Linked DNA regions of Homo sapiens. The protein of the gene in region 6 purifies or fractionates together with the protein of the main gene of each other region. This does not show direct contact. Each region holds a gene or a part of one and is shown on either strand. Other genes may lie near its edges. The genes, in order: HNRNPM, MTCL1, MYBBP1A, EIF3A, RBM12, SBDS and TIAL1.

Evidence for each region.
Region 1: the proteins of SBDS (region 6) and HNRNPM purify together in Homo sapiens (affinity purification with mass spectrometry, with the first as the bait; one study listed by BioGRID). This does not show direct contact.
Region 2: the proteins of SBDS (region 6) and MTCL1 purify together in Homo sapiens (affinity purification with mass spectrometry; one large-scale study listed by BioGRID and IntAct). This does not show direct contact.
Region 3: the proteins of SBDS (region 6) and MYBBP1A purify together in Homo sapiens (affinity purification with mass spectrometry, with the first as the bait; one study listed by BioGRID). This does not show direct contact.
Region 4: the proteins of SBDS (region 6) and EIF3A purify together in Homo sapiens (affinity purification with mass spectrometry; one large-scale study listed by BioGRID and IntAct). This does not show direct contact.
Region 5: the proteins of SBDS (region 6) and RBM12 purify together in Homo sapiens (co-immunoprecipitation; one large-scale study listed by IntAct). This does not show direct contact.
Region 7: the proteins of SBDS (region 6) and TIAL1 fractionate together in Homo sapiens (co-fractionation; one large-scale study listed by BioGRID). This does not show direct contact.

What each region holds. Positions count from the first base shown.
Region 1 is NC_000019.10:8,461,737-8,466,201, reverse strand, and holds part of HNRNPM (heterogeneous nuclear ribonucleoprotein M), read right to left. Parts: intron 3,674-4,465; coding exon 3,621-3,673; intron 2,706-3,620; coding exon 2,698-2,705; intron 2,610-2,697; coding exon 2,516-2,609; intron 879-2,515; coding exon 687-878; intron 1-686. UniProt on the Homo sapiens protein: Pre-mRNA binding protein in vivo, binds avidly to poly(G) and poly(U) RNA homopolymers in vitro. Involved in splicing.
Region 2 is NC_000018.10:8,711,662-8,716,126, reverse strand, and holds part of MTCL1 (microtubule cross-linking factor 1), read right to left. Parts: intron 1,986-4,465; exon of another isoform or gene 1,878-1,985; intron 1-1,877. UniProt on the Homo sapiens protein: Microtubule-associated factor involved in the late phase of epithelial polarization and microtubule dynamics regulation.
Region 3 is NC_000017.11:4,548,640-4,553,104, forward strand, and holds part of MYBBP1A (myb-binding protein 1A), read right to left. Parts: intron 3,988-4,465; coding exon 3,812-3,987; exon of another isoform or gene 3,801-3,811; intron 3,654-3,800; coding exon 3,486-3,653; intron 3,359-3,485; coding exon 3,241-3,358; intron 1,715-3,240; coding exon 1,419-1,714; intron 804-1,418; coding exon 693-803; intron 11-692; coding exon 1-10. UniProt on the Homo sapiens protein: May activate or repress transcription via interactions with sequence specific DNA-binding proteins. Repression may be mediated at least in part by histone deacetylase activity (HDAC activity).
Region 4 is NC_000010.11:119,039,059-119,043,523, forward strand, and holds part of EIF3A (eukaryotic translation initiation factor 3 subunit A), read right to left. Parts: intron 3,715-4,465; coding exon 2,936-3,714; intron 1-2,935. UniProt on the Homo sapiens protein: RNA-binding component of the eukaryotic translation initiation factor 3 (eIF-3) complex, which is required for several steps in the initiation of protein synthesis.
Region 5 is NC_000020.11:35,651,390-35,655,592, forward strand, and holds part of RBM12 (RNA-binding protein 12), read right to left. Parts: intron 3,956-4,203; 5' UTR 3,934-3,955; coding exon 1,135-3,933; 3' UTR 1-1,134. Other genes in the region: CPNE1 (copine-1), read right to left, coding at 2,139-2,153.
Region 6 is NC_000007.14:66,986,518-66,990,186, forward strand, and holds the end of SBDS (ribosome maturation protein SBDS), read right to left. Parts: intron 1,983-3,669; coding exon 1,854-1,982; 3' UTR 1,163-1,853; downstream 1-1,162. UniProt on the Homo sapiens protein: Required for the assembly of mature ribosomes and ribosome biogenesis.
Region 7 is NC_000010.11:119,586,675-119,591,139, forward strand, and holds part of TIAL1 (nucleolysin TIAR), read right to left. Parts: intron 1,575-4,465; coding exon 1,478-1,574; intron 1-1,477. UniProt on the Homo sapiens protein: RNA-binding protein involved in alternative pre-RNA splicing and in cytoplasmic stress granules formation. Shows a preference for uridine-rich RNAs.

The DNA.
Region 1 (4,465 bases), on a different chromosome or scaffold from region 6:
GTAAACATCTTAAGAAACACAACATTTTTACTACATGAATGATACATGCTTTGGTTGGAAAAAAGTATTAGGAAATAATGTCACAAAAACTAATCAACTGCAATGGAAATTTTAAAATAGGATTATAAAGCCTGGCCTTCACTGTAAATAAACTGTACCTATAGTAAATATATTGTCTCTTTTCTCAGAAACTTAAGTCACCTCATACTTCAAATTAATACTCATTTTCTGAACATTTTTAAAAAATTGTTTCCCTGATAAGCTTTACCACTCCCCACCCCACCCAACCTACTTTATTCTAAAAATATTTCCCCTTGCAGATGGTGGAGGTATTATCATTCACCCCAGACACAACAAGAGGAAGGTGTCAGTGCACTTCTGCTCGTACAGTCTTACTCTGCACCAAAACTGCATAAAATAAACCAACGGAGAATGCAGACTCGGTTACTGCTTGCGGAAACACCTGCGAAACTCAGGAATCACAGCCCCAACGAGACCACGGTCAAGCCTGTGACTTAGGAATGCAGACAAAGCCCGCCTATAAGGCTGATTTTTAAAGAAATCAAGAACAAAACCCTTCTTTACATTTTTCTTCTCAAATGTGAGAATTACTTTTATAACATATTGACAAGGTCATTTCATAAAGTTCTGATTTTCTACTTTAGACGATGGTTCTGTTTACTTACATTTGCTACAAATACTGTGCTTCCAAGTCTTCCAGCCTGTAATGCATGGATAATCTCATTTGGGATGTTGGGATTATTTAGGATACTGGGTGGGATAGTAATCATTCCTGGGCCACCTGGTCCCATACCCATCCCACCAGTCGTAGCCATCACCTTTTGCATTGCTCTCCTGGCATGTTCACCATCAGGATCCTAAAACAAGCACAAAAGGTGTTACGTTTAACTGACCCAGTACAACGCAAACCATGCTTGCACAGTAAATGATATTCTCAAGACTTAGAAACTGAAAGGTTGTTTGGAAAGCATCTCTCAAATCTATTAACAAGAAAGTCAAATGAACTCAACTACCAGCTTAGAAGAGTCCAGCTAAAGAAATAGGAAAGGAAGAAAAGGCATGAAGTGTAGCACTAAAAACACAGCTCTCAATTGCACTAAGTAAAAAAGAAAAGCAGGGTAGGGAGGGAAACATGATTAGCTGATATAATGTAGAACCGCCAGACTGAAATTAGAGCTTCATGGGCTTGGTATAGCTGAATCTTACTAATTCATCAATGGGGTTTTGTAACTTCTGCAAACCCCGTCAATGGCTTCCAGAAGTTTGAGAAACAGTTCTAGACCACACAAGCGCCCCCATCCTTCAAGTCCTTCAGGTGTTGGAGGCGTGTGTGTGAGGGCTGCGCAGTAAAACAACATCTGGGAAGGTCTGTGAAGCTCTGTACTGACTCTCTTCTTCAACTCTCTGTCCTGTCAATTACCACCATCAGCACTAAAAAAGACATCATAACACATGAGAGACCTTAGACCCTACCAAGCTTCACTCTGAATCTACTCATCTTCCTCCCCAAGAGAAGAGGTGAAAAGAAGTTAAGAGGGATGTTTTTTTGAGACAGAGCTTTGCTCTTACTGCCCAGGCTGGAGTTCAATGGCGCGATCTCGGCTCACTGCAACCTCCGCCTCCTGGGTTCCAGCGATTCTCCTGCCTCAGCCTCCCGAGTAGATGGATTACAGGCACCCCCCACTACGCCCAGCTAATTTTTTGTATTTTTAGTAGACAGGGTTTCACCATGTTGGTCAAGCTGGTCTTGAACTCATGACCTTGATCCACCCACCTCAGCCTCCCAAAGTGCTGGGGATTACAGGCGTGAGCCACTGCGCCCAGCCAAGAGGGATTTAATCAACAAAAAAACCTTCTTCCTCAAGGAATATATTTGATTCAGATGAGATGTGAAAGCAGGTTTGAGGAATAACAAACTCACTTTATTTTTTTATTTTTTAGACAGGGTCTCACTGTTGCCCGGGCTGGAGTGCAATGGTGCAATCTCAGCTCACTGCAACCTCCACATCCTGGGCTCAAATGATCCTCCTGCCTCAGCCTCCCAAGTAGCTAGGACTACAGGCATGCGCCACCATGCCTGGCTAATTTTTGTACCTTTTGTAGAGAGGGGGTTTCACCATGTTGCCCAGGCTGGAACAAACTCACTTTTTAAAAAAAGAAAAAAGATGGGCCAAGAAGAAGGGTCAGATGGAGTAAAACTTAATGGCACAAACCCACGGGCTCATGGTTTGAGAGTCCCTGAGACAACAAGGCCTCAGACAAATCACAGATATTAGAAGGTGGTCAGCAGCCACTCAGGATCTGCTTGGCCACCACCCCAAAGTCCTTGCAGGGAATGGCTGCTGTAGGCTATGACCGACACTCTTCATTAGAAACAACAGGCTGGCACTTGCTTTGTAAATGCCGTCTGGGACCATGACCGTCTTTCCCTAATTCCAAAGTAGGATCACTCAACAATTACACACAGTATCCGCAGTGTTAAGCAAGAGCTTACTTCTTTGACTTTCAGTGGTCTTCCGCTCAGACTATGCTTGTTTAGGACTTCCGCAGCTTTTTTCATGCTCTCTTCCATCTTGAATTCAACAACACTATAGAGTCAAAAGGAAACGAGTCGAGTGAAACCAGTCCTACAAGTTAGAAGGCTCAAATACCAATAAGTAACTAGACGATACTTACGCACATCCCTTTGGAGGAAGCCAGAGACCAGTCAGAAGAGCAAGGAAGGGGAAAAAGAAAAGAAAAAAATAGTAAATATCAATGACAGTTATAAACAAACTAAAAATATGATTTATGTCACAAAGTTAGTCTTTTAAAATGAACCCTTCTAAGGGGAAGCTGACAGAAGTGCCTCGCCTCGCCTTCCTTGTTAAAAGCTGGGCTCCTTAATATCTCCTTCTCCTACGCGTTACCAGCATTGCACTAGAGCTGCTGACATTTAATAAGCAGACCTAAATTCAGGGTCTCCAAGAAATCACACCAACTTTAGATCTGCTTCCCTCTGTACTCAATCGAGTCCTTACCATATTCCTCCTAAATCCATCCCTTCCGTAAGTTAAGCTCATCCTTTTGATTATTCTAAGCCATTCTATTGCACGACAGAAAATAGTTTATGTTCTCTTTAAACTAGGCCAATTTTGAACATTCAGGTTTTTAATATTTGGTTTACAATTTACTGGCACAAAGGCAACTTTTCGGAATCTTTGGTTCACACAACTTTCAAATTCAGCAAACAACCAAGAGTAACATTTTCTAGACAAGAACACACGTTTTACATTAATTATACCACCGCTAAAATTCCATGCATAATTCACACACAGCCAATTCCTCTGTTAACAAAGAGACAATGCTGCTATTGGTCCCCAGTTATCCAAATTGGGCATCCAAACAGAATACCAAAAAGCTCTTTGGCCAGCCATTTGGAAAAGCGGGACTCCCATTTGCAAATCCCCTCCCACCCCACTCAAATGTTTGGCAAAATCAAACATAGCTACTGTAACATGAGCACTCACTGCCTTCCTGATTTCATTCGATTCCACGCCACCATACAGTTACATTTTTCATGTAGTAAATCCACAGAAGAAATTCTCTCAGACACTTACCCTTGACTTTCCTTCAGCGTCCATTAAGAGCTCCACGTATGTTACCTCACCAACTACAAATCAGTTTCCAGACGACACATAAACCAAGGGAGAAAAGCCAAGAAAACAATGGGAATTTAGAACAATCATCAGCAACCTTGTATGGAGCCTCTGCCTTATAAGAAAGCCCAGAAACACTCCATATTCTCTAAACCACCGAACTAGGCATTACAGGTGTGCAGTAAAAGTAGGTGAAAACACGTTAACAATATGTCCTTGATTTTCCTCCCACCACAAACAAGCTATTCCACAGATTTCCGTATCAATTTCCCTGTCTGGAAGACTCATTCATGACTAGAGGCAATCCAAATCTATAGGAAAGAAGTCTGCGTGATTTACTTTTCTGGGGAAGGGAGGAGGTTTTACACATACGCTCTCATTGGTGGCAAGCAGGTGAAATGCATACAAATTGCGATGCCATCGGGCTGAGCTCACATGCTATAAATACAAGGACGCACGTATGCGAAGGTATAAGCTCACAGGCACACACGGCCGCAGGGCCAGCTTCACAGGTGAGCAACTCGTGCAATTGTACAGAGCCCCGCACTCAGGGGCCCTGAGCTTGGTTTAATGCTGTTATCGCTGCCATGACATTCTTAGTTTTTTTTTTTAACAAGAGGCCCCTTGTTTTCGTTTTGTGTTGGGCCCCACAAATTCTATAGCTGGTCCTGCACACAGCACTAGGCTCCACATCTGTAGAGGCAGAATGTTTGAATATAATAAGATCACAAAACCAGAGCAGCATCTGGATTCTCTTCAGTGAATTAGGCCAGGCTTCATTCTTGCCGCTTTCTAAACCTCCCCAT
Region 2 (4,465 bases), on a different chromosome or scaffold from region 6:
GTCTTAAGAAAGATCAATCTTAACACTGAAAATGTTGTGAACTCGTAACCAAGTTTCATTTCTTTTTTCCTCCATGGAAATCTCTCCTGGTAAATCCTGGTCCTTGTGGGAAGATCTGCTGGAACTGGAAGTTACTGGACTGAGCATAGGAGCTGATCAGCTGAACACACATAAACAGAATGGGTGGTTTGGGCTCTTCAGGGGACCAGAGAACACAGCTCTTTCAGGACAGTGCTTGACAACCTTCTGCAAACCTTCCACAAACAGGAGGTTGTTACTGATGCCTGATCACTGAGGCTTTGAAGACGCCCTATGGGAGCTGTGCCCCTGCACTACCCACTCCTAGAGGAGGTCAACTGGAGACTGAAAGCTTTAAAATGAGCCTTGTGGTTGTCACTCTTTCGATAGAGTGGGAAGTTAGTTCTGAATCTTCAAAAATCAACGTCAAGTTTGATTCACACCCCATCCATGAAACTAATGGATCAGACTTTGAGAAAGAACCTAACCGCAATGCTTGTTTCTGAGTAAAGAGGTTAATTGTTTCACTGAGTCATTAATACAAATCAGTTCAATACAAGCAATAATCACTAAATGTTCAACACTAAGTCAATATCTGTATATGTATATGTACATGTATATCCACACATACAAATATACAGTGACTCTGGCCATTCTGTTCATGGAAAGAATGGTTTGTGATTGCTTTTCTTTCCAGAAAGCCTGCCAAAGTCATTAATGCCTGGGATTATCGGCAACTAAGACAAAAGTTTTTAAAATGCAATATAGCCCTAAGATGCAAGATACAGCTTCCAGGTATAAAATGTCTCTAGCTTTCAGACTTTGCAACTGGAGAGCCCACATCCACCCTAATGTTAAATGCTGCATTTTCATACAGATGTTACAGGCTATGAAAACTGTTCAAGGGCTAGATGCACCCACACCTCCACATCATTGAGCAGACCAGATGTAAATAGCAATATTTTTTGGCACAAATAATCACCAACATTAGTTGTACTGCAAATAAAATTAGGGGCCGGGTGCGGTGGCTCACGCCTGTAATCCCAGCACTTTGGGAGGCCGAGGCGGGCGGATCACAAGGTCAGGAGATCAAGACCATCCTGGCTAACACAGTGAAACCCTGTCTCTACTAAAAATAAAAAAAATTAGCCAGGCGTGGTGGCGGGCACCTGTAGTCCCAGCTACTCGGGAGGCTGAGGCAGAAGAATGGCGTGAACCCGGGAGGTGGAGCTTGCAGTGAGTGGAAATCGCGCCACTGCACTCCAGCCTGGGCGATGGAGTGAGACTCCACCTCAAAAAAAAAAGAGAAAAGAAAATTAGGGAGAGATCATATGATATGGTTTGGCTGTGTCCCCACTCAAATCTCATCTTGAACTGTAGCTCCCATAATCCTCACGTGTCACAGGAGGGACCCAGTGGGAGGTAACTGAATCACGGGGGCGGGTTTCTCCTCTGCTGCTCGTGACAGTGAGTAAGTCTCAAGAGAGATCTAATGGTTTTATAAACGGCAGTTTCCCTGCACACGTTCTTACGTGCCTCCATGTAATATGTGTCTTTGCTCCTCCTTTGTCTTCCACCATGATTGTGAGGCCTCCCCAGCCATGTGGAACTGTGAGTCCATTAAACCCTTTTTTCTTTATAAATTACCCAGTCTAGTGTTTCACAGAAGTATAAAAATGGACCAATGCACCATAACGGCATGTATTTAAATCACTGCTCTTATAATTCATATTTTACCTAAATTTACAGAACAGGCGTCGTTTATTAAGCACCTCACCCTCATTACTAACCCTACAATAACCCTGTCAGGAACACATTATGCAGTTGATAGACAAAAAAACAAAACTGAGGCTAGTTACCTGTGTCCAAAGCTTCACATCTAGTAAATTGAAGCCACACTGCAAACCCAGGCCTGTCTGCTTTCAATCACACACTCTTTCGAGTAAATACCATAAATTATTTGCTTCAACCTGGACAAATGAAACAATAACAGACCTTCAATTGTACTTTTAAAAGTCCACCATCAGTGTAAAACAAAAAAAGCAGCCTAACATTTACAGCTCGACAAGTGACGACACAAAGCATATCCATTAGGGCAACTGGTTCTTAGGAAGACACTGCAACGTGCGGTAAAGATATCCGTGCCCCTTCCCCGCTTTTTTTAAAGAGACAGAGTCTCACTCTGTGACCCAACCTGGAGCGCAGTGGTGCAGCCATGGCTCACTGCCACCTTGAGCTCCTGGGCTCAAGTGATCTTCCTGCCTCAGCCTCCTGAGTAGCTGGGATTACAAGCACATGCCACCATGCCTGGCTAATACTCCCATCTTTAAAACGAGGAAACTGAGATTCTAAAAGTATAAATGGCTTTCCACCATTATTGGTCTGCTGCAGCAATAGGACCAGGGCCAGTGTTTCAACTCTTCCCAGAGAGCCTAGAAAAAAGTAATTTTCAGGTTCAGTGAAAAGAAGTTAAAGACAAGCAAATTATAAACCATGTAAGCTGGCAGCAGCCATCTGAAAAGCAAAAACTATGATTACTGGAATTAGGGTCATGATGGATAGTGATTTTCAAACTAACATTACATTAATTTTCTGACGGCATGCTCCAATTTAGAAAACTGTATTGCAGAACCTTAATGACATCTGCCAACTAAAAATTTAAGTAAACCAAATCGAGCAGAGCATATGATGTTTCTGACAGGTGTAATTTAGAGATAGTACATAAAATTGGAAAATCGCTGTTGTCTTTTTATACACGGAAATAAGAAAAAGCTGTCCTTAATAGTTTTTTACTGAATTAACATCAAGTCTGGAGGATACTTAAGTATTAAATCATTATCTCATTGAAAAGCTAGTTTTAATTAAATACCTTTTTAAAGTTTTGTATATAAAACGAAATCTTGAAGTACTGTGAAGTCCAGTCGACTATTCCCCTTTGCCTGTGGCTGACAAATCAAGCCTTATCATGTATCTCAAATTAGAGGAATAATGAGGTACCAGGTGTGCACTAGAGTAAACCAAGATTAAAATTATATGTTTTAATGAAAACCTCTAAAAGGATAGTTTTATCCATGAATATATAATAAAAGTCAAATCCATGGCTTCTTAGTATAAGTGATGAAAACTCTTAATCATGTTAATAACTATATGAAAATCTTAATCTCTTTTAAATACCCAAAATCAGTAACTATCTCTATTTTAGCACCTCCTCTTTAAATAGACCCAGTTTGGATGGTAGAAGGAGTCCTCTGGCTACTGCTGCAATAATTCTATCTTCTGGGCAGACAGAAACTACTGTCTTTTGTAACATACGAATAATCCACCTCATTTCCCTCCAGACAAGGGAAATGTTCTCCAAGAGTCCCAGCTGTAACTAAGGAGGTGCAGGGCGACTCCCACTGTCTACCAGGTGATGGTCCAGCCAGCAGCTGGTGGCCGCAGCCCTTGTCTACATTAACTGCCACTGAAAATGATCATAGCCACTCTTTCAGTGGCTGAATACAGAGTGGGTATGGACAGCGAATGTCAGGAAAGAATGGGGAATACTGTCCATGTTAACCCTTCTGAAAGAGAAAGGAGGAGGAGGCGGGGAGCAAGGAGGCGCTGAGACACCTCAGCTACAGAGCACTGCTTGCGCTCCTCTCCAAGTGCCCCTCCACCCCCAGGCCACACTGAGCACCCGGCATCTGGGCAGCCCAGCTGCCAAATGTCAAAAACCAGGTCAGGGCCTGAAACTCAAAAGGCTAACTCCAATGAGAAGCAGGATGGTAAGCTTGGATCAGCAGTGAGACACTGCAACCTATAAAACCAAAACTCAACCTCTCCCTTAGGAAATCATTCCTCTCCAAGAAGCCAATTTTCTCTGCCCTTGTATCTAGCACCAACTTGTTTTCTTTTAACAGAAAAATATTTCCTATGAAATAACTGAGAAAGCAAAGCAAAGCAAAAAGAAACAGCTCTTCCCACCCCAATCCTCACCCACCCTGCAGGAGGTCAGCATGGCAAGAGGACACTATTTGGGGGTGGGGGAGGTGTGGGGTTATGGCTGCTAAAAGCATTTTCAAAATAGGCTCATAAATGCCAACTGATTAAATCCTCCTGAAAAGCCTGTGGAAACAGAGAACATAATTAATATGTTGACAACGAGCACTCCGGCTTGTCTGACTGTCTCCGAGCACTCGAGCAAAACACAGTCTTGGCAGCCTGGCAGGGAAGGAACACACCAGCGCTTTACCAAAGTCCTCAGCATTAAGAAAGTGCCTGGGTTCAACCTACAACATGGGAGAAAATTTTTGCAACCTACTCATCTGACAAAGGGCTAATATCCAGAATCTACAATGAACTCAAACAAATTTACAAGAAAAAAACAAACAACCCCATCAAAAAGTGGGCGAAGGACATGAACAGACACTTCTCAAAAGAAGACATTTATGCAGCCAAAAAACAC
Region 3 (4,465 bases), on a different chromosome or scaffold from region 6:
CAAACAAAACCTGGGGAGGGTGGGAGAGTGGCCATAGCCATTCACTGCCATTGGTTTTTACAGGCTCCCCTCCTTGGATGGTACCACCGAGGGTACAAGGCCAGGAGGAGGAGGAGCCGCCCTTCTGCCCTGGGTACAGTCCTCGGGGGCCTGACGGGCAAGGCTGGAGGGGGCTGGGCTGGGCTAGGATGGGAAGGGGCCGTTTCTCTGCTCTGGATCCCCAGCTGAACGCGGGTTAACCCGAGCTAGAGAGAGTCAGTGCCCCTCTCAAGGAACCAACAGATGGGAGGCTGTGTGGTCATGGCCAAGTCAGGTCACTGCTCCTGCGAACATGGGACAGCCCCCTCTTGCAACCGTGCATGTTGAGGGTGACGTGAGCACCCAGCTCTGCACTGGCACAGACGAGGCAGGTGTGGGGCAGAAGGCTTCCCTGACACCTCCCACGTGCAAAAGCTGCCTGCAGGGCGCGCAGAGCACACCTGAACCTTTTAGGCCCCTGCAGCTGGGGTGCCTCCTGGGCCCCTTCCCTTCACGGGTTCCTGAGGAATTCCCAAGTCCCCTTGTGCCTGCCCCCCACTGATGACTCAACCCAAAGGCTTCTGGCTCCAGGGGATGCAAACTAGGACGAGTTAAGGGGCCCCATTCCTTGGCCACACGCCCATGGGAAGCTGGGAATCCAGCACAGCTCGCACCTGGCCACCTGCTCAGTCAAGGCCTCCTCCATCTCCAGGTGCAGGCTGTCCACAATGCTCACCAATCGAAAGATGATCCATTTCCTCAGCCGGAACACAGCTCGCTCAGGCCTAGCGGGGCAGGAGGCGAGGTCATGTGAGCCACTTATAACTGGCAGAAACAGGCTGGGCCCAGTGGCTCACACCTGTAATCCCAGCACTTTGGGAGGCCAAGGCTGGCCAATCACTCGAGGTCAGGAGTTCGAGACCAGCCTGACCAACACGGTGAAACCCCATCTCCATTAAAAATACAAAAATTAGCTGGGTGTGGTGGCGGGTGCCTGTAGTCCCAGCTACTGGAGAGGCTGAGGCAGAGAATCACTTGATTGCTTGAACCCGGGAGGCAGAAGTTGCAATGAGCTGAGATCACACGCCACTGCACTCCAGCTTAGGCCACAGAGAGTGAGACTCTGTCAAAAAAAAAAAAAAAAAAAAAAAAGAACCAGCAAAAACAGGACATTCCTTTGCCTGATCTCAGAGACAACACTCCAAGATCTCCCCATCCCGATCGCCAGTGTGGGGACACACAAGTAAACTGAGGCCTCATATGAGAGCTAAGGCTCTTCCCCCTCGCTCCTCTCATGGTTTAGAGCCAGGACGCTGTGGAGGGCGGGCTTGGGTCGCGGGGCTCTGCAGGCCTAGGAAGTTAACTCCTAAATTAGGTGTCCTCCCCCAAGGTCCACTCACATGTGGAGCGATGAATCCTGGGCTTTCTTCTGGTTGTTGGTGCTGAAGTCAACCAAGGAGTCCAGGTCTGGCTGGAGAAACATGGCCCGCAGCCAGGCCACATAGCCCTGCAGGGCCGGAGGGCTCAGGAACCGCACGACCCGCCAGAAAGTAGGCGTGACAGGGAGGCCTTGGTTGGTGACAGATGAGAAGGCCACTAGCACGGCCAGCTGCCGCTCAGGGTCATCCTGGCACCCCTCTAGGAAGGTGCCCACGTAATCGTCCATCTCTGGGGCAAACTTGAACTGCTTTGGGAGCTGCAAGAGTTAGGCATGGCGCTGAGCCCACCAGCCCAGGGGGGCAGGCGGTTAACAACCCAACAGCCAAGGGGGCAGGCGGGCAACAGCCCAACAGCCCAACAGCCCGGGGGCAGGCGGGCAACAGCCCACCAGGCTTGTGCCCACTACAGGTTAAATCGAGCCCCGGCAATCTCCTGTTGTACACAGCTAGGCTGTGCCTGAACTTGCAACAGTCCAGTCACCCCAGTGCTTTTGTCTGGCGTCAAGGCCTCTGTGGGTCTGACTGCCCCAGCTTCAGCACCTCCGGCCCCAGAAGGCCCCTCTTTCCGCCTTGCTGGATGGGGATGGCCTGTTTTCCTGGCTCAACGCAGGGCAGAGTGGTAGTTAGGAGGCGAGACTGACCTGGGTTCAAAGCCCACGCTGCCAATTCCTAGCCGTGTCATCTTCGGGACCAAAAACAACCACCTCTCACGCGCTTACTCAGTGCCAGCACCCGCGCTCCGCCTTTTTGGGCGGCAGCTTAGCATTTTTAGCAACTCTTTGCGGTTGGCCAATATTGTCATTGCACAGGTGAGTACAGTGAGACACAAAAACACCTAGAGGTAACTTCTCAGGGTCAGAGGCTCCCAGTGGGATAGTGTCCGGCTTCACAGCCCAAGCTGTTTTCCTTTCAATTTTTTAGACTTGTGCCCCTGGCATGTAGTGCCATGATCATGGCTCACTGCAGCCTCAAAATTCTGGGTTCAAGGGATCCTCCCACCTCAGCCTCCCGAGTAACTGGGACTACAGGTGTGCACCACCATCCAACCCAAGCTCTTAACCACTGCCTGATACTTCAAGTCTCCCCCTCACCCAGAATGACAGCTCTCTGAAACTCACTGCAAAGATAAAATGAGCTGGTGAGAACAGTCAACCCAGCAGCACTTACTGGGCACCAGGCTCACTGGTGCCCAAACATGGTCATGACGACTGTTCTCATCACTGCCACATGGGCGGGGGCGGAGAGAGGTCTGAACAGCCCGCTGGCTATCCATGCCCACAAGGGGGCCTGCTGGCAGAAGGGCCTGACTTTATCAAAACTGTCAGAGGGAAGCCAGGTACAGTGGCTCACGTCTGTAATCCCAGCACTCTGGGAGGCCAAGGCGGGTGGATCACCTAAGGTCAGGAGTTCGAGACCAGCCTGGCCAACATGGCAAAATCCCGTCTCTACCAAAAATACAAAAATTAGCTGGGCGTGGTATTGGGCGCCTGTAATCCCAGCTACTCAGGAGGCTGAGGCAGGAGAATCGCTTGAACCTGGGAGGCGGAGGTTGCAGTGAGCCAAGATCTCACCACTGCGCTCCAGCCTGGGCGACAAGAGCAAAACTTCATCTCAAAAAAAAAAAATTTGTCCGAGGGAAAGGGGTTCAGGCAGCTCACTACCCAGACGGAGGGGACACCCATAGCTCTAGCCAAGCCCCCGAGGTGCCCTGCTCCCCTTTTTGGCAGGGAGAGCTCCACGTCTAGCCTTTCTGGCAGTGTCGAGCTGCACGGGCATTACCCACCTTAGCAGTGCACACGTGCTCCCCGTAATGGCGGATCACGTCTCCCTGCATCACCAGGTGCAGCTGCTCCTTGGTCAGCAGGGGCAGGGCCGCGCCCAGCAGGCGGAAACACAGGTAGCTAAAGGGGGTGCAGGACAGAGCCTGGTCAGAGCCCTTGGTGCCCCTGGTGGGAACCTCAGGACTAGTGGCCTAGCCCACTTCACGGACAGGGAAGGGGGCCGAGAGAGGACACGCGTCGCCCGCACCTGGCTGGCCAGAACTGCATCTTCAGCAGCCCTTGTTCCACCACCTCCTTCCAGAACCGTGGGAACTTGTCTTCCTTGAGTGCCAGGCGGAGCAGGTCCAGAGCAATGGCGGGCAGCTTGCGGTCCTTCTTCACAGAGGAGGCGGCCATCTTCAGCACATTCACCAGCCTGCGGAGGGCAAGGGACTCAGGGAACACTTGCCTCACAGGCAAGGGCCAGGGTGACAAGAGCAGCCGGGACACCCCCAGGCCAAACGACAAATCTGGGCCTGGCCAGATGCAGTCCCTTGGCCCCAGGGAGGGCAAATCCGCCCACCTCCATCACACCTGGGGACATTCTCATCTGAGAATAGGTTCACGGATCCCACCAGCTTCTTGAGCTTGGAGGGCACCTTCTGCTGGGCCAGGAGGAAGAGCTCTAGCTGTTCAGGGGAGCTGAGTATTATATTCAAGTCGGCTTTGAGGACCTCCGGCAGGATCTCCTGCAATGTGGCCTTCGAGACCTAAGGATGGAGGGAGAAGAAATCGTGACTTCCTCTGCGGGGTGAGCCTGGTGGATCCTGTTCTACCTGCTCCTGACACGGGGCCACCTGGTGAGGTATCAGAGTCATCAGAGGCCAGTTGCTAACAAAACTCAAATTCCCAGGCAGCGGGGTTTTTGACAAGCATCCCACTGACGCTAACTGGCCCCTGGAGGTACCTGCCCCCCACCCCTTATTTTTTTTTTTTAAGACAGAGTCTCACTTTGCCACCCAGGCTGAGTATAGTGGTGTGATCTTGGCTCACTGCAACCTCCGCCTCCCAGGTTGAAGCAATTCTCCTGCCTCAGGTGGGATTAAAGGTGTGCGCCATCACACCCAGCTAATTTTTGTATTTTTAGTAGAGATGGGGTTTCACCATGTTGGCCAGGCTGGTCTTGAACTCCTGACCTCAAGTGATCTGCCCACCTCGGCCTCCCAAAGTTCTGGGATTACAGGCGTG
Region 4 (4,465 bases), on a different chromosome or scaffold from region 6:
TGATGTTACACAGATCACTCATTTAAGCAGAAACTTCAAGAGTTTTCTCTGAGTCCCAATTTTGAGGTATTTATACCTTGCAACGTTTTCAAGCCCTTCATATCCAAAAAACAATCTTTCCTTTTATATTCCTGTCCTCCACCATTTGCCACCCATTATCTAGTCATTAATCATGAATAAATCCTTTAACCCTGCACAGTGGCTCACACTTATGCATGGAATATATGAATCTAGGAACATTTTATATACAGTACATATAGAGATGTAAATTTGCTGGTGACCTCACTGTTTAAAATGGCCTCCAAGTGTAGTGCTAAAATGCTGTCTAGTGGCCAGGCGTGGTGGCTCATGCCTGTAATCTCAGGAATTTGGGAGGCTGAGGAGGGTGGATCCCTGGAGCCCAGGAGTTCAAGACCAGCCTGGGCAACATGGCAAAACCACATCTCTACAAAAAAATACAAAAATTAGCTGGGCTTGGTGGTGTGCACCTATAGTCTACTACTCAGGAGGCTGATGTGGTAGGATCTCTTGAGCCCAGGAGGCAGAGGTTGCGGTGATCTGAGATCACGCCACTGCACTCCAGCCTGGGAGACAGTGAGGCCCCACCTCAAAAAGAGAAAAAACAAATGCTGTTTAGTGGCCCCAAGCACAAGGTGGCTATGATATGCCTTAAGGAGAAAATACATGTATTAGATAAGCTTTGTTCATGAATGAGTTATAATGCTGTTGACCATGAATTCAATGGTAATGAATCAACAACATATCAGAAATAGGGAGTCTTTAAACACAAACACATAAAAGACATTTTATGTATTGATTGGTTGACAAAAATATCATGACTAGAAGCTTACAAGAACCTAACCTTGTATTTACCCTAGGAACATGAGTTCAGTATTCATGGCAACTGTATAAAATATAATTAGCAAATTAGTAAGAATCTGCTATACTGTTACCCCATTTAACATGAGGAAAAGAAAAATTAAATGTCTTACACAAGGTAACAGCCGAACAGCAGAATGAAGTGAGACTAGAAGAGACGAAGTAGGCAACAGAAACAACTGGGGAAAGCAAGGAAGCAGCTCACTTAGATCTGCACTTACAACAACTGCTCTGGTTATTTCCCTGACACCCAAAATTAAAACTGGGAGTAAGAGAGGCAGCAAAAACCAGTTAGCGGGTGAGGAAAATGATGCTGACCCAGGACCAAGTACAAGCAATGGGAATGGAGAGGAGGGTGGATTTCAGGAACATCAAAAAGGCAGAACTGAACTAAAGATTTAACATAAAGGATGAAACAGAGACAAAACAACTCCCAGAATCCTAGCTCAGACAGTTAGATGGACAGTGATGCCCCTGAAGAGAATCAGAGGGATGGGTGGGCGTGAACAAGTGCACGTGTATGTGATGGTAATGAGTCCAGTTTTGGATAGGCTGTGTTAGACATTCAGTAAGACTACCAAGTGGAGATGTGCTATATGCAGTAAGCAGCTGTCACCTGTGTGCAGTACGCAGAAATTACCTAGAGAAAACTGGCCGGGGCAGTGGCTCACGCCTGTAATCCTAGCACTTTGGGAGGCCGAGGTGGGTGGATCACTTGAGGTCAGGAGTTCGAGAGCAGCCTGGCCAACATGGTGAAACCCCATCTCTATTAAAAATACAAAAAAATGGCCGGGCGTGGTGGCTCATGCCTGTAATCCCAGCACTTTGGGAGGCTGAGGCAGGCGGATCAAGAGGTCAGGAGATCGAGACCATCCTGGCTACCATGGTGAAACCCCATCTCTACTAAAAATACAAAAAATTAGCCAGGCATAGTGGTAGGCACCTGTTGTCCCAGCTACTCAGGAGGCTGAGGCAGGAGAAGGGCATGAACCTGGGAGGCAGAACTTGCAGTGAGGGGAGATCGCGCCACTGCACTCCAGCCAGATGACAGAGCGAGACTCCGTCTCCAAAAAAAAAAAAAAAAAAAAAAATTAGCCATGCATGGTGGCATGTGCCTGTAGTCCCAGCTACTTGGGAAGCTGAGGCAGGAGAATTGCTTGAACCTGGGAGGCAGAGGTTGCAGTGAGCTGAGATCATACCACTGCACTCCAGCCTGGGAGACAGAGCAAGACTCCACCTCAAAAAGAAAAAAAATGGTAATAGACGCATGTCACAAACATGTATACAACTGCTCACGAATAATAAAGTGTGAAACAATAAGCAGGCCCAGGACTAAGAAAAAAAATGAGGCTGGGCGCAGCGCCTCACACCCGTTATCCCAGCACTTCACTTTGGGAGGGAGAGGCAGAAGGATAACTTGGGCCCAGGAGTTTGAGACCAGCCTGGGCAACATAGCGAAACCCCGTCTCTCCAAAAAATAAAATATTAGCAGGGTGTGGTGGCATGCGCCTGTAGTCCTAGCTACTCAGAAGGCTGAAGTGGGAGGCTCCCTAGGGTCCGGGAGGTCAAGGTTGCAGTGAGCCATGACTGCACCACTGCATTCCAGCCTGTGCAACAGAGCAAGACCCTGTCTCAAAAAAAGTAAAGTAAAATGAGTTCCTCCTTGCATAATCTCTCAGTTGGCAAAAATAAATATATAAAGTACATTTTGGTTTCAATTATTTATTTTTAAAAGGAGGCTGGTTCCCAGTAAAACCTGAAAAATACACCAATACTGAAAGCATGAGTACAGGAAGAGCCTTCAAAGAAGCAGTCATCGAAGCAGAAGGAAAACAAAGAGCACATCACTAAAGAAGAGAGGGGTTGGGTTATTTATGTTTTGGATGGTGGTATTCTGAAGGCAAACTTTTGACAGCGAAGTCACTGCAAATGATACTGAAGGAAAGATGAAAGACCAGTTTATCTGGAAAATAACAATACAGCCCTGATATTTATCCATCAGAATTTCACTTTTACAGGTGAACACTTAAGCATATTCTAGGAAATAGAATTTTACCTGGCTTGACTAATGGTCTCCAAGGACCAGGTCTTGAGTCATCACCCCGTCTGGGAAACCGATCATCATCAGCACGTCTTGAAAGGCGATCATCATCCATGTTTCTCCAAGGGCCCCTGTCATCCTCTGCACCACGCCTGGGAATTCTGTCATCATCGGCGTTCCTCCAAGGTCCTCGATCATCATCCAACCCTCGCCTGGGACCCCGGTCATCATCCATGCCTCGCCTGGGACCCCGGTCATCATCCATGCCTCGCCTGGGACCCCGGTCATCATCCATGCCTCGCCTGGGACCCCGATCATCATCCAACCCTCGCCTGGGACCCCGGTCATCATCAGCATTACGCCAGGATGATCGCTCATCATCAGCGCCTCCTCGCCTCGGCCCCCGGTCATCATCCATCCCACGTCTTGGTCCTCTGTCCTCATCAGCTGTTCGCCAGCTTCCTCTGTCCTCATCCAGTCCTCGTCTAGGTGGTCTGTCATCATCCGCATGACGCCAGTTTCCCCTGTCTTCATCGGCAATTCGTCTGGGAGGCCTGTCATCATCTGTGTTACGCCAGGAAGGCCGGTCATCGTCTGCCCCACGACGAGAGAACCTATCTTCCTCAGGACCACGTCTAGGGCCTCTGTCATCATCCATGCCACGCCGGGGAACCCGATCATCGTCTGGTCTAAGAGAGGGCTCTCTATCTTCATCATCCCCCAGACGCCGGGGCCGCTCTTCATCTCTTCTATGAGACCTGTCCTCATCTCGCCCTTCTCCACGTCTCCACTCCCTACACAGCAACAAGAACAATTAAAAATATATAAAATAAAAAAGCATATGATCCTTTGGGGATTTTTTTTTTCACATGCTTTTTAAAAACTTCAGTATGGGCCGGAGCAGTGGCTCGCACCTTTAATCCCAGCACTCTGGGAAGCAGAGGCAGGCAGATCACCTGAGGTCAGGAGTTCAAGACCAGCCTGGCCTGGCAAAACCCATCTCTACTTAATTGTAAGACATGCGGCTGGGCACAGTCGCTCACACCTGTAATCCCAGCACTTTGGAAGGCCAAGGCGGGAGGATTGCTTGAGCCCAGGAGTTTGAGACTAGCCTGGGCAACATGTCAAAACCCCATCACTATAAAGAATATAAAAATTCACCAGGCGTAGTGGCCCACACCTGTAATCCCAGCACTTTGGGAGGCCGAGGCAGGCAGATTTCTTGAGGTCAGGAGTTCAAGACCAGCCTGGCCAACATAGTGAAACCTCGGGTCTACTAAAAATGCAAAAATTAGCCAGGCGTGGTGGTGCATGTCTGTAATCCTACTTGGGAGGATTACAAGTGCCTCCCAGCTACTTGGGAGGCACAAGAATTGCTTCAACCCAGGAGGCGGAGGCTGCAGTGAGCCGAGAACGCGCCACTGCACTCCAGCCTGGGTGACAGAGCTAGATTCTGTCTCAAAAACAAAGAAACAAACAAACAAAATTAACCAGGCATGGTGGAGCGCACCTGTGGTCCCAGCTACTCAGGAGGCTGAGGCAGGA
Region 5 (4,203 bases), on a different chromosome or scaffold from region 6:
TAAACAGGCTCCTGATCGAACAACTATGCCAAAAAGCCTCCAAATAACAGGACTAACACGTATCAATCTACGAACCAGCATACGGATCTTTTATTCTATACTACTACTGCTAACAAAGATAATTTCAACTTCAGTTTTAAAAACCTAGATATAACACTTTCTTATGAATGGGCCCCTCTTTGTTTAAAGGCCAAAATTTCACATAATCGGGACAGGAGGAAATTGATACTACAATTAGTCCATATGAAAAGGACTTCAAATCAAGTATCTTAAACACATTATTAAAAGTGGTTTCTGGTTTTCGATACCATCCAAACAACATGAACAATTTTTAAACTGACTAACCTAAATCGTGGCGGTCAAACCAAAAAGGCTCTGGTAGATAAAGGACTCCATAGTTTATTTTTATGGCAAAAGTCTTATTCCACACAGTTTTAAGTGTGACATTAGAAATCAAAGTTTGAGGTTATAGCACAAACGAAGTGTGGACTTTTATATTTAGGGAAAAAAACCAACAAAACAGTTCTGCTCATTTACAAATGAGTCAATTAGACAAACAAAGCAGCAACTTCTGAAGCAGGACTGTCTATACAGCAAGGACCCTTAAGAAGCAATAAAGGTACATACAATGAATCTGTATACAGAAATTTTATTCAATTTTAAAAGAAAATGAGGACTTTAGACAAAGCTTTACCCTATAACAAAGCAAATCTGTCCAGCTTTAAACCAAATTCTGAGAGTAGCCAACTTCTATTTTCAGCAGCTGGCAAGAGCACCCTCAATGAGTTCTACTGACATTTCTATTTTCTTCATCCCATATGGTATAAAACAAAACCAATCTAGACTCCTTGATAAGCTTTATGTGGTCATTTGAGTTTTACAAATGGTTTCTCTAATGGTATGCCAAAATCATTTATGTGTTCTCTCCAGATAGCTTTACTGTAACATACAGCAATGTTTATCCTGGTGAGTGAGTCTTCTGTAAACAGTCAACCAATGCTCTATGTTATGGAAACCAAGCTATATGCAATTGAAACAATCCACAGGTTCTAACCTGGAAATACTAGGAAAACAATCTGGATGCATTAATCACAGCAATATGAAGATCTACCCTATAAAAAATGATGTGAATGGCTACCCTAATACAAGTTTTACTTTTCTTGAACCTATAGGCCTGTCATTTAAGTCAATGACAGCAGCTGTGGCTTCATCCCGAGACTCAAAGGCCACCATGGCTTCACCTGTGGGCATACCTTTTTCATTGTATTTTAAACACACTGAGCCTGGGATTACTTGATAGCCATAAAAGAAATCTAAAATCTCATCAATAGACACAGTAAAGGGCATGTTTTGCACTTTAATTACTGTCGGTCCTGGTTTTCCAGAACTAGATGCAAAGCCAGGGGGACCACCAATATGGATTGGGCCAGGGCCGGGGCCGGGGCCGGGGCCAGGCCCAAAAGCTGGTGGCCCACCCAAATGCCCAGGGGCACTTCCAAGACCAGGAGGGCCACTTCCAAACCCCGGGGGACCGCCTAAGCTACCAGGGCCATTTCCAAAATTCTGAGGGCCCCCTCCAAATCCCGATGGCCCACTTAAATTGTTTGGTCCACCTCCAAAACCCGGAACATCCAGTCCTAGACCAGGCAAACCACTGTTTCCAACTGAAGGCATACCAGGCCTAGCATCACCAAAGGCCCCGCCTCCTAATCCTGGAGGAGGGATTGGTGGCCCAAAGGCATTTGATCCACCAAAATTACCAGGAAAGTTAAATGGAGGCCCATTATTGGCTTCCTTTGATCCTACAGTCAGGAAGGCATGCTCTTCACCTCCTGCACTAGGTATTCCTGCACTGGGCATTCCCGCACCAGGCAGTCCTGCACTGGTTATTGCTGAACCAGGCAGTCCTGTGCTGGGCAGGCCTGCACCGGGAAGTCCTGCACTGGGCAGTCCCACACCGGGCAGTCCCGCATTGGGCATTCCTGGAACTGCAGGATTACCTGGCACAGGCATCTTTAATCCCTTTTTTCCTTGGGCAGGGGGATTTTTCTCAATCTCTCTCATATCTTCTAGGGTAACTACATGAACAAAAGCTTCTCTCCCATTAAGTTTTTTACGGTGTAAGCGTTCAGACTTACGTGCATCATCTTCATTTTTAAACTGAACCAATGCCTGTCCTAGACCTTGCCCATTGTTATCAACAAGAACATGTACAGCATTTTCATCCACTGGGATTCCTTCTAGGAACTGAAGAACATCCATCTTTGTAATGCTGAATGGAATATTTGTTATGTGGGCACAGACTTTGGCAGAGTTGACATCCCCCTCTGGATTTAGTATCATTTCCCTCTGGTCATAGCTGAAGTTCTGCAGTCTTTTTCGAATCATATCTATCTTTTCTAGCATACCTTTCTTAGTAATTGGATGAACTTGAATAAAGCGATTGCCCATGTACTGTTTATGACGACACAGAGCAGCCTTATAGTCAGCCTCATTTCTGAACTCTACAAAGCCTTCGCCAGTTGCTTTCCCATTGGGTCCATAAGCTATATAAATACTATCTTCCACAATATCCAGCTTTTTAAAAAAATCAATGACATGTTTGTTTTCTGCTTCAAATGGTAGCCCTTTCAAGTAAACACAAAAACCAGCCTCATGTGGTGATCTTGACCTTGATCTTTTCTGCCCACTGGGCGATTTTGACCTGGGAAGTGTCTGAGGAGGGGGATGAGTTTGTCCAGAAGGTCCCATATTTTGCTTAAAAGTGATATGGCCTCCAGCAGCTACCCACTGTCTTTCTGTGGCAGGGCTAACTTCCACATAGCGTTGAATCATCAGCATTCTGTTTCGTTTCAAAGCTTCAAATGTATCTTGAGGGGAGAGAAACTTAACCAATCCATTCCCATTATTTCGACCTACATGATCTTTCAACAAATGCACTGCATCAACACGGAGCCCATGAAAAAAATCTCTGACATCATTTTCCATTGCAGAAAAGGGCATTCCATGCACACTGACATACAGATCATCAGGGTTGATGGGGAGTGGCTTCACACTGCTCTGAGAGTTCATCTGGATAGGGTTAACAGGATTCAACGGACCAAGAAACATAGGATTCAGATTATTGTTCAAATTCATAGGTGCTCCAGAGCCATTCATTCCAGCAGGTAGAGGTGCCACAGGTGGCGGATTCAAGGGCGGCATGCCCGACATGGGTGGCAGTGGGGTCATGGGTGGCACAGAAGGAACTGGGGGAATCGGGGGCACAGGAGGCACAGGAGGCAATGTAGGTACTGGAGGAGGAACTGGAATTGGGGGAATGGATGGCATTGGTGGCAGAGATGGCATCGCTGGAATTGGAGGAATTGGTGGCGGCGGGACTGTGTTCATTGGAGAGGCTGTGCTTGGAACAGTTGAGCTAAACGTTGGGCTCCCAAAGGAAGCCCCCATATTTGGAGGAGCTGTTCCTACGCTGGCTGTGGAAAATGTCTGTATGTTTTTGTTGCTTTCATGAACAGAAGTGGTGGCAGTAACTACACTGGGTGATGGATTATTAAAGTTGGATACTGTTGTGGGCAAGTTTACCCTGCTACTCATTCCTGAGCTAGGTGGTGGTCCTGATCTACTGGCATTTGCTGGTGGTATATCTAAGTTGGCAGTTTCAAAACGCCTACGACTCAGTTCAATCATATTCTGCATTTCCGTCTTACTACTCAACAATAGTGTTACTTTTGACCCTTTAATTGTACCACCTGTGCGCATCATACCAAGCCTTGCATCTTCATCAGTGGCAAAAACGATGAAAGCCTCACCCAGTTCACCCCCTACAATATGCACGCCCCCATCAGGAATGGTCAATCCAGAGAAGAAGTGGCGAATGTCCATGGTCCCCGCCACAATTGGGAGACCTTGCAAACGGATGACCACAGCCATGCTGCGCTGAAACCACACACACCTGCAGATGAGAAAAGGCAACGGCCAGGTCAGACTCCTGTTTATCACACCAAGTTTTTAGCTACAAGAATGACCAGCTACCATATTAGGCCCTCAAATATTCCCTCAAGCTATCACAGGCAATGTCTTTAATTTAGATATTCTAAAAACTGAACATTACGTGCCATTTACAATGTAAAACGTAGACAATTTCAACTTCCAGAAGGCATTAATTTTGGAAACAGTTCAGTCCCAAGACTCAAAAAGTTC
Region 6 (3,669 bases):
GGCTGGAGTGCAGTGGGGTGATTTTAGCTCACTGCAACCTCCGCCTCCCGGGCTCAAGTGATCCTCCTGCCTCAGCCTCCCAAGTAGTTGGGAAAACAGGTGCACACCACCATGCCTAATTTTTTGTATTTTTGTAGAGACGGGGTTTCACTGTGTTGCCCAGGCTGGTCTCAAACTCCCAAGCTCAAGTGATTCACCCGCCTTGGCCTCCCAAAGTGCTGGGATTACCGGTGGGAGCCACTGCGCCTGGCCCCAGAAAATCTTAAGGAAATGTTCTATTAAATGTTTATATTTTTTTACTAAGATAGAACTATTGATATATTGAACAAATAGCTGTATCAAAACAGCAGCCTAGCTTTAGCATTAACAGAAAAAGTGTTCATTCCCATGTTATCAATGTATTTTGTTAACAATATAAGAAAAAATTTTGACTTTATAACCTCAATGTTAGTTATTTTAAACTAAAGGGACATTTCTGAGAGCTTGTATTAGCAGGGAGTTGTGTGTGCTTATAAACCAATCAGTACCTTTTCAAGTCAAGAAGCCTGTCTTCAGTTAAAAACTGCTGTCCAGAAATACATCTGTATGTTTATTTTGAGTGAATTTAATTTATATTCTAGAATGTATCTTTTGAAATAGATTTTTTTTCTTTTTTTTGGAGACCGAGTTTCACTCTGTCACCTAGACTGGAGTGCAGTGGCACATTCTCAGCTCATTGCAACCTCTGCCTCCTGGGTTCAAGTGATTCTCCTGCTTCAGCCTCCCGAGTAGCTGGGACTACAGGCGTGCACCACCATGCCTGGCTAATTTTTGTATTTTTAGTAGAGACAGGGTTTCACCATGTGGGTCAGGCTGGTCTCAAACTCCTGACCTCAGGTGATCCGCCTGCCTCGGCCTCCCAAAGTGTTGGGATTGCAGGTGTGAGTCACCTCCCCTGGCCTTGAAGTAGATTTTTAAAAGCTTGCATCTTGTCCATTTAAGTGTTTAAATACTAAAATAATTCTTCCCAATTACATCCCAAGTGTTAGCAAAAATTTTTCAGGTGTTTACAAGTACAGGCCCTGTTCTAAGCACTCTTCATATGGACTTATTCAGTTCTCCTGACAACTCCCTAACCCTACCACAGACACAGGCAGAGAAAAGAAAGGGAGTTAGGAAGTTGTCTAGAAACACAAGCCATAGTTTAATAAACATAAGAGTGGTTTTATTGATTACATACAATTTTAGCTATATTAATATATATTATAAACTTTAAGAATTAGAAATAAGTGACTTTTATTTTTTAACCAAGAATAATCTAAGTTATGGCAGCATGTTCAATGAAAGGTAAGTCCGGCACAATTTTTCTATATCTGTTTCTCAGATAATCAGGAACATCATCCAAGCTTTACATTACGATACCATAATGACCCTCAGAACACAAGTTCCATTAAGTAGAAATGAAGCATCATATGTTTTCTTTTTTAGGAAAGACCCCCCCTTTTGTTGTATAGACATACCCCTAATAATCTTACTCTACTGTACAAATAACTTTTCACCCACAAGAGCTGCCTCAAGTAACTTTCATTTTGGAAAGCTATCAAGGCATGAGACAGAGTAGCAAAATGCCACTCTGGACTTTGCATCTTGGAGTTTCAATTTTGCTTTAGGATTTAGACCCCAGTTTATAATTAAAACCAAATCATTCCCACATTATTATACTTATGTAGGAAAGCCTTGCTGTGTCCACTGTTAACACAAAGATAGAAAATGTCAAATAGTTTAAGCAAGTATTTGGCAGACCACAGACATGAAACAGTGCCGTCGGAAACGGAAACACTTTAGTGTTTTAGAGGTGAAGAGATTGATGGGTGTCATTCAAATTTCTCATCTCCTTCTTCTACATCTTTCAGATTGAGTACTTCCAAAGAACCTTTGCCTTTAGTTTCCTTTTTTATTAGCTCATCAATTTCTCGGAAGCAGCCCGGGTCAATCAGACATACCTGAAACATTTAACGTAGCAGATTACCACATGAGGATGAGCAAGACACAGAATAAACTCAGCTTTAACTTCCTTTGAGGCAAGCACAATGCTGTCCAGATCTCTAATAATACCACAGTTCTATGGTGCAATAGATAAGACAATGGGTAGGGCGGCACACTGGGTTCCAGTTTAGCCTCTGCCCTCAAGTGTCCATGTAGCCCCCTGTGACAAGGCATTAATCCCTATGTTTAAACACTTATTCTGATTCTTCAGCTGTAAATGGAAGGGACAAACTAGAAAACTCTGATTCTTCTCATACTAAAATTTAGCATTACATTTTATAGCTCAGTAAAGTCACCTCCACGTATGAAGGAGAAAAAGCAATGTGAAGACTTATGTAGACACCATGTGTATGTTAATTTATTTTTTTTTGAGATAGAGTGCAGTGGTGTGATCTTGGCTCACTGCAGCCTCCGCCTCCCAGGTTCAAGTGATTCTCCTGCCTCAGCCTCCCAAGAAACTGGGATTACAGGAACCCACCACCACACCTGGCTTATTTTTTGTATTTTTAGTAGAGATAGGGTTTCACCATGTTATCTGCTCACCTTGGCCTCCCAAAGTGCTGGGATTACAGGCACGAGCCACTGTGCCTGGCCCATGTGTACAGTTTTGCAAAGATTTTAGAACTTCAAGTAGTGTCAGATGAGTTAGTTCACATCTACAGTGGATACTCACATACTCAACACTTCTCTACAGCTCATTTACTTTTAAAAAGAAGCTGCAGACAGGGCGCGGTGGCTCAAGCCTGTAATCCCAGCACTTTGGGAGGCCGAGGCGGGTGGATCACCTGAGGTCGGGAGTTCGAGACCAGCCTGACCAACATGGAGAGACCCCGTCTCTACTAAAAATACAAAATTAGCTGGGCGAGGTGGCACATGCCTGTAATCCCAGCTACTCGGGAGGCTGAGGCAGGAGAATCGCTTGAACCCGGGAGGCAGAGGTTGCAGTGAGCTGAGATCACGCCATTGCACTCTAGCTTGGGCAATAAGAGTGAAACCCTGTCTCAAAAATAAATAAATAAATAAATAAATAAATAAGCTGCAAAGCCTTGAAAACATGAATTTGTAGACAGCTCAATTTACACTGTGTTTGAAGCTGTGGGGTGAGGTCATAAGGACATAATGGTTTCGCTGCTTCTTTAAAATGTTCTGTGTTTAGTGTCACCAGGTTCACACACTAATATCCTCTGGAAACACCCTCACAGACATACCCCAAACAATGCTTTATCAGGCTTCTAGGGATTCCTTTCCAGTCAAGTTGACACCTAAAATTACATCCACAATTCCACCCCTTATCAACTTGGCACCCAGACTCATCTCTTTAAACCATTTTTAATTTTCAAATGAAGACAATAACAAGGTCCTAGCTTTTCCTCACATGATGCAATTAACCAGACGCGACTATCCTGCATACAACTCAAAGAGTGCTAATCCTTTTGCCAGAATTCAGCTTTCAGAATTTCATCATTCAGAATTCAATCTTTTTTTTTTTTTTTTGAGATGGAGTTTCGCTCTTGTTGCCCAGGCTGGAGTGCAATGGTGCAATCTTGGCTCACCGCAACCTCTGCCTTCCAGGTTCAAGTGATTCTCCTGCCTCAGCCTCCCGAGTAGCTGGGATTACAGGCATGTGCCACCACGCCAGACTAT
Region 7 (4,465 bases), on a different chromosome or scaffold from region 6:
GTTAGACTCATTTCCCTTAACTCCCCTCCATCCCTCACCAGACTCTAGCCATCGGTCTTTGATTCCACAAACACAAGTTCATTACCAACTCAAGACTTGTATTTGCTGTTTCCTCTGCCTCCAGCTCTTACCATAGATAGCACCATCTTGTTATTCATCTCAGCTCAAAGAGGTGACATCTCTCATCACCTAGCCTATATAGCACCAACCCTCCAATCATCACAGAACTCTGTTTTATTCTCTTCATGGCTTACATCCCTATTTGCTTGGGAAACTCATTTGGCTGTCTCTCCATTATATCTCCAGTACCTTGTATAGTGCCTAGTGCAAAGGAAATTTTTGATCGATGAAAGCACAAATAAATAATTAAAGGCAGGAAGGAAAAATATAATACACCAGAACAAAATGATGATTGTCATTACTTGGGAAAGACAATCAAAAGGCCAATGCACTTTAAAGGTTTTTAACAGTTCTCCGTTTCAGGATAAAACAAACTCTTTAGCACAGTTTCTAGCCCTTTCCATAAACTCCTGCCATCTCTTACGACTAATTCCATTTTAACTACAACCATGCTACGGGTTCTATTTTTCCCTCTCTGTCTCAAGCACTCCTGCTCTCCCTACCAACCTGGATCAAAGTTCCCTTTATTTGGAATCCCTTCTTCCCTCAATTCCTTTCTAGCCAGTATGTACTACTATCCTTTCAAGGTTTCCGCCTAGGCAGTGAGTCCTCCAAGAAGCCGCTCACTGACCTAAGGCTGCACTGGATACACATTTGCTCCCACAGCACTTTAAGTTGTCTGCTTCTAGAGCATTTATTATCCTACTTCCTAAGTGCCTGCTAACTCCTTTGTCTCCCTACTAAACTGTAAAATTCTCTGGGCCAAGGAACTATCTTTATTCACCAGTGTATCTCTAGCACTTACTGCAGTATCTAGTACATAGGAAATAGTCCAAAAAAAAAAAAGAAAGCTGATCAATGAACAAAAACACAAGGAAGAAAAGCCTAAAACATGACTAATTGGGTGCTGCTACAGTCTTAGCAGGAAAGTATAAAAAGGTAAGTATTTGCTACAGACACACGAGACGAACGGTGCTGCACACTACACACATAATAACTTCGTGTTCTCGCACATGAACACATGCTGTCTAAATCGTTAACATTCTTATTGGAATTGTATGAAATACTTTCCAATTTTTCACCATTCTGAAATGAGCTCTAATAATGTTCTGAAAGCAGAATCACTTCAAGATAACCACACCATGAAGAATGACCGTTTGAGCTTAACAGCACGGAAACTTTGCCCTCTTAAATAAAACTCCATTCTAAGCCTAGTTTGTCAGCCAAATCAAAGTAATAAGTCAACACAACACAAATCTCTCCACCAGAATAACTTGAGGCTTACAATGAAATTTTAAAATCATGCTAATCAACCCATCATGCTAATTGTCAGCACATGGAACTGGGAAGATCTTACCTCTGTTATCATTTTACAGCTTTTACAGGGTCCAATCTGACTGAACAACTGAAGTATAAGGACTTCTGTCACATCTCTGGAAAGGTTACCTACGTATCTGCACAAGAAAAAAATACGTTATCAGCAATTTTTCCTTTAGCTCTGGCTCTAATGTGTTATCATCTAATTCATCACCTTTTCTTTCTTTCTTTCTTTCTTTCTTTTTTTTTTAGATGGAGTTTTGCTCTTGTTGCCCAGGCTGGAGTGCAATGGCATGATCTCAGCTCACTGCAACTTCCGCCTCCCAGATTCAAACGATTTTCCTGTCTCAGCCTCCCAAGTAGCTGGGATTACAGGCGCATGCCACCATGCCTGGCTAATTTTTGTATTCTTAGTAGAGACAGGGTTTCATCGTATTGGTCAGGCTGGTCTTGAACTCCTGACCTCAGGTGATCTGTCCGCCTTGGCCTCCCAAAGTGCTGGAATTACAAGCGTGAGCCACTGCGCCCGGCCACCTTTTATTTCATTTTAACTTCCTCTGTTTTCAACAAAATTTCTCCAATTAAACCTGATCCTATGAAAGTAAGATTAACCCTTATTTAGGAAAGCAACAATTGTTCTTAGGCCACTAAAATACCACTCTGAAAGACATTTAAAGAACAAATCAATGTGATCTTGTATACCCCAATGGCATTATTATTCTGTACCCTGGATATCATTTTCTCATCTTATTCTAATTGTTAAAATTTTAAACTGGTCTCAAGATAACTACAATTTCTAATTAAAAATAATTTATAACACACACACACATACAACAAATACTAATTCATTAAAACATCTGATTGTAATAGGATATTAAACATAAAGTGAGTTTATCTTAGATTCCCAACCAAAGCAATTACATGAACAAAGAACAGAATTAAAGTTATAGTAAAACATACAGAGGGTGGAGGGTTTTTGTTGTTTTGTTTTTGGCTGAGTAAGGTTGTTTGCAATGATGTCTTCACTGTTTCATTTTAGGAGAGCAGGGTAAAATATAAAATTTCCTAGTCTAAAATGCATCAGAATCAACAAAATATATATGTATTTTTTTGAGATGGAGTCTCACTCTGTCACCCAGGCTGGAGTGCAGTGGCATGATCTCAGCTCACTGCAACCTCCGCCTCCCAGGTTCAAGCGATTCTCCTGCCTCAGCCTCCCAGGTAGCTGGGACTACAGGCGTGCACCACCACGCCCGGCTAATTTTTGTATTTTTAGTAGAGACGGGGTTTCACCATGTTGGCCTGGCTGGTCTCAAACTCCTAACCTCAAGTGATCCACCTGCCTGAGTCTCCCAAAGTGCTGGGATTACAGGAGTGAGCCACCATGCCCAGCCAACAAAATATATCTTAATGTAGATAAAAAAGCTAATACAAAGATTTCTTAAGAAATTCAGAGAAAAACTAAGACAAATCCAGGCATACTTTTGACTATGGACACTTAAAAATTTGGGTTTTTTTTCCTAATTACAATTGAATGTGTTTTGTGTAAAAGATTTTAAATACAGGAAAGTTTAAAAAAGAAAAGAAAAAAATGCTACTTCATCACACAGAGAGGACCACCTTGGTTTATGTCTTGTACTATGGATTTATCTTAATTTATCTAAATAAATTGCCAAACACTAAAGTCTTTCTGGTATTCTACACATAATTCCTCAAATTTGCATCTGTTATGAACAACCTCATAAACCAAACAATATCTGTAAAATTTAACAAAGTTCATTCTGGAAAGTAGATTTCTTTTTCTACTTGTAATATATTACATCTGGAAACTGAGTATTAAGACCAAAATAAGACTTGCAACATAGCTGCCACATTAAATACACAACATGCTTTAAGATGGAATACTCAAAGGGAAAAATAGACTGAGAAAGCTTAGGTTAAGTAAAAAACTTAAAAGATCCAATTAAGAATTAGTAGCGATTTTCCAGTTAAGAATTTTATTGCAATGAGTACTAATAATCTTAGTGTACCTGCTCTAAAATTGAAACACACATCCAATATTACCTAACTAGAGGACTAAACAAGTGACAAACTGTTTTACGTCCACTATGCCACCTTTTCCACGTAATTAAGGAGCTGATCCATCAGCAGGCCAATGTAGTGACATACTTTTTCCAGCAGGACTAAAAGGTTATTGGGTTATGAGCCAGCGATAGGCTGCTTGCCCCTTCTTAACTCATAGGGGTTTGTGAGCCTGTATCTCTGAAATGATTTCTTTTTGTACAGAGTAGACCTATCTGTAAGAAAAATGAACAAGTGACCAGGCATGGTGGCTCACGCCTGTAATCCCAGCACTTTGGGAGGCTATGGCAGGCGGATCATGAGGTCAGGAGTTTGAGACCAGCCTGACCAACATGGTGAAACCCTGTCTCCACAAAAAATACAAAAATTAGCCGGGCATGGTGGCGCGCACCTATAATCCCAGCTACTCGGGAGGCCGAGGCAGGAGAATCGCTTGAACCTGGGAGGCAGAGGTTGCAGTGAGCCGAGATTGCACCATTGCACTCCAACCTGGGCGACAGAGTGAGACTCCATCTCAAAAAAATAAATAAAAAAGAAAGAGAGAAAGAGAGAGAGACAGAGAGAAAGAGAGAAAGAAAGAAAGAAAGAAAGAAAGAAAGAAAGAAAGAAAGAAAGAAAGAAAGAAAGAAACGAACAAGTGATCTTGAGCTTCTAAACATTATGCTCCTTGCCTAAAGGGCTAGTTAGCTCACTTCTAAGAGAAAAGAAGGATGGATAAAACTGGTTTTCACATATTGAAGCTAGCTAATAACAAAATTAAAATAGAATTATCATTTTAATATAACACATTTTAAATGATTTAAATAGTTTTAAATTTCCATTACTGTTTAAACATCAATTTCTTCAGGAAAAACTGTATTGGAATTAGTTACCTTCTATATCTAATAGTCACAAAAAAAGCCGTCACTGCTTAATAAGATCTTTATTCCACCAGGTGTGGTGGCTC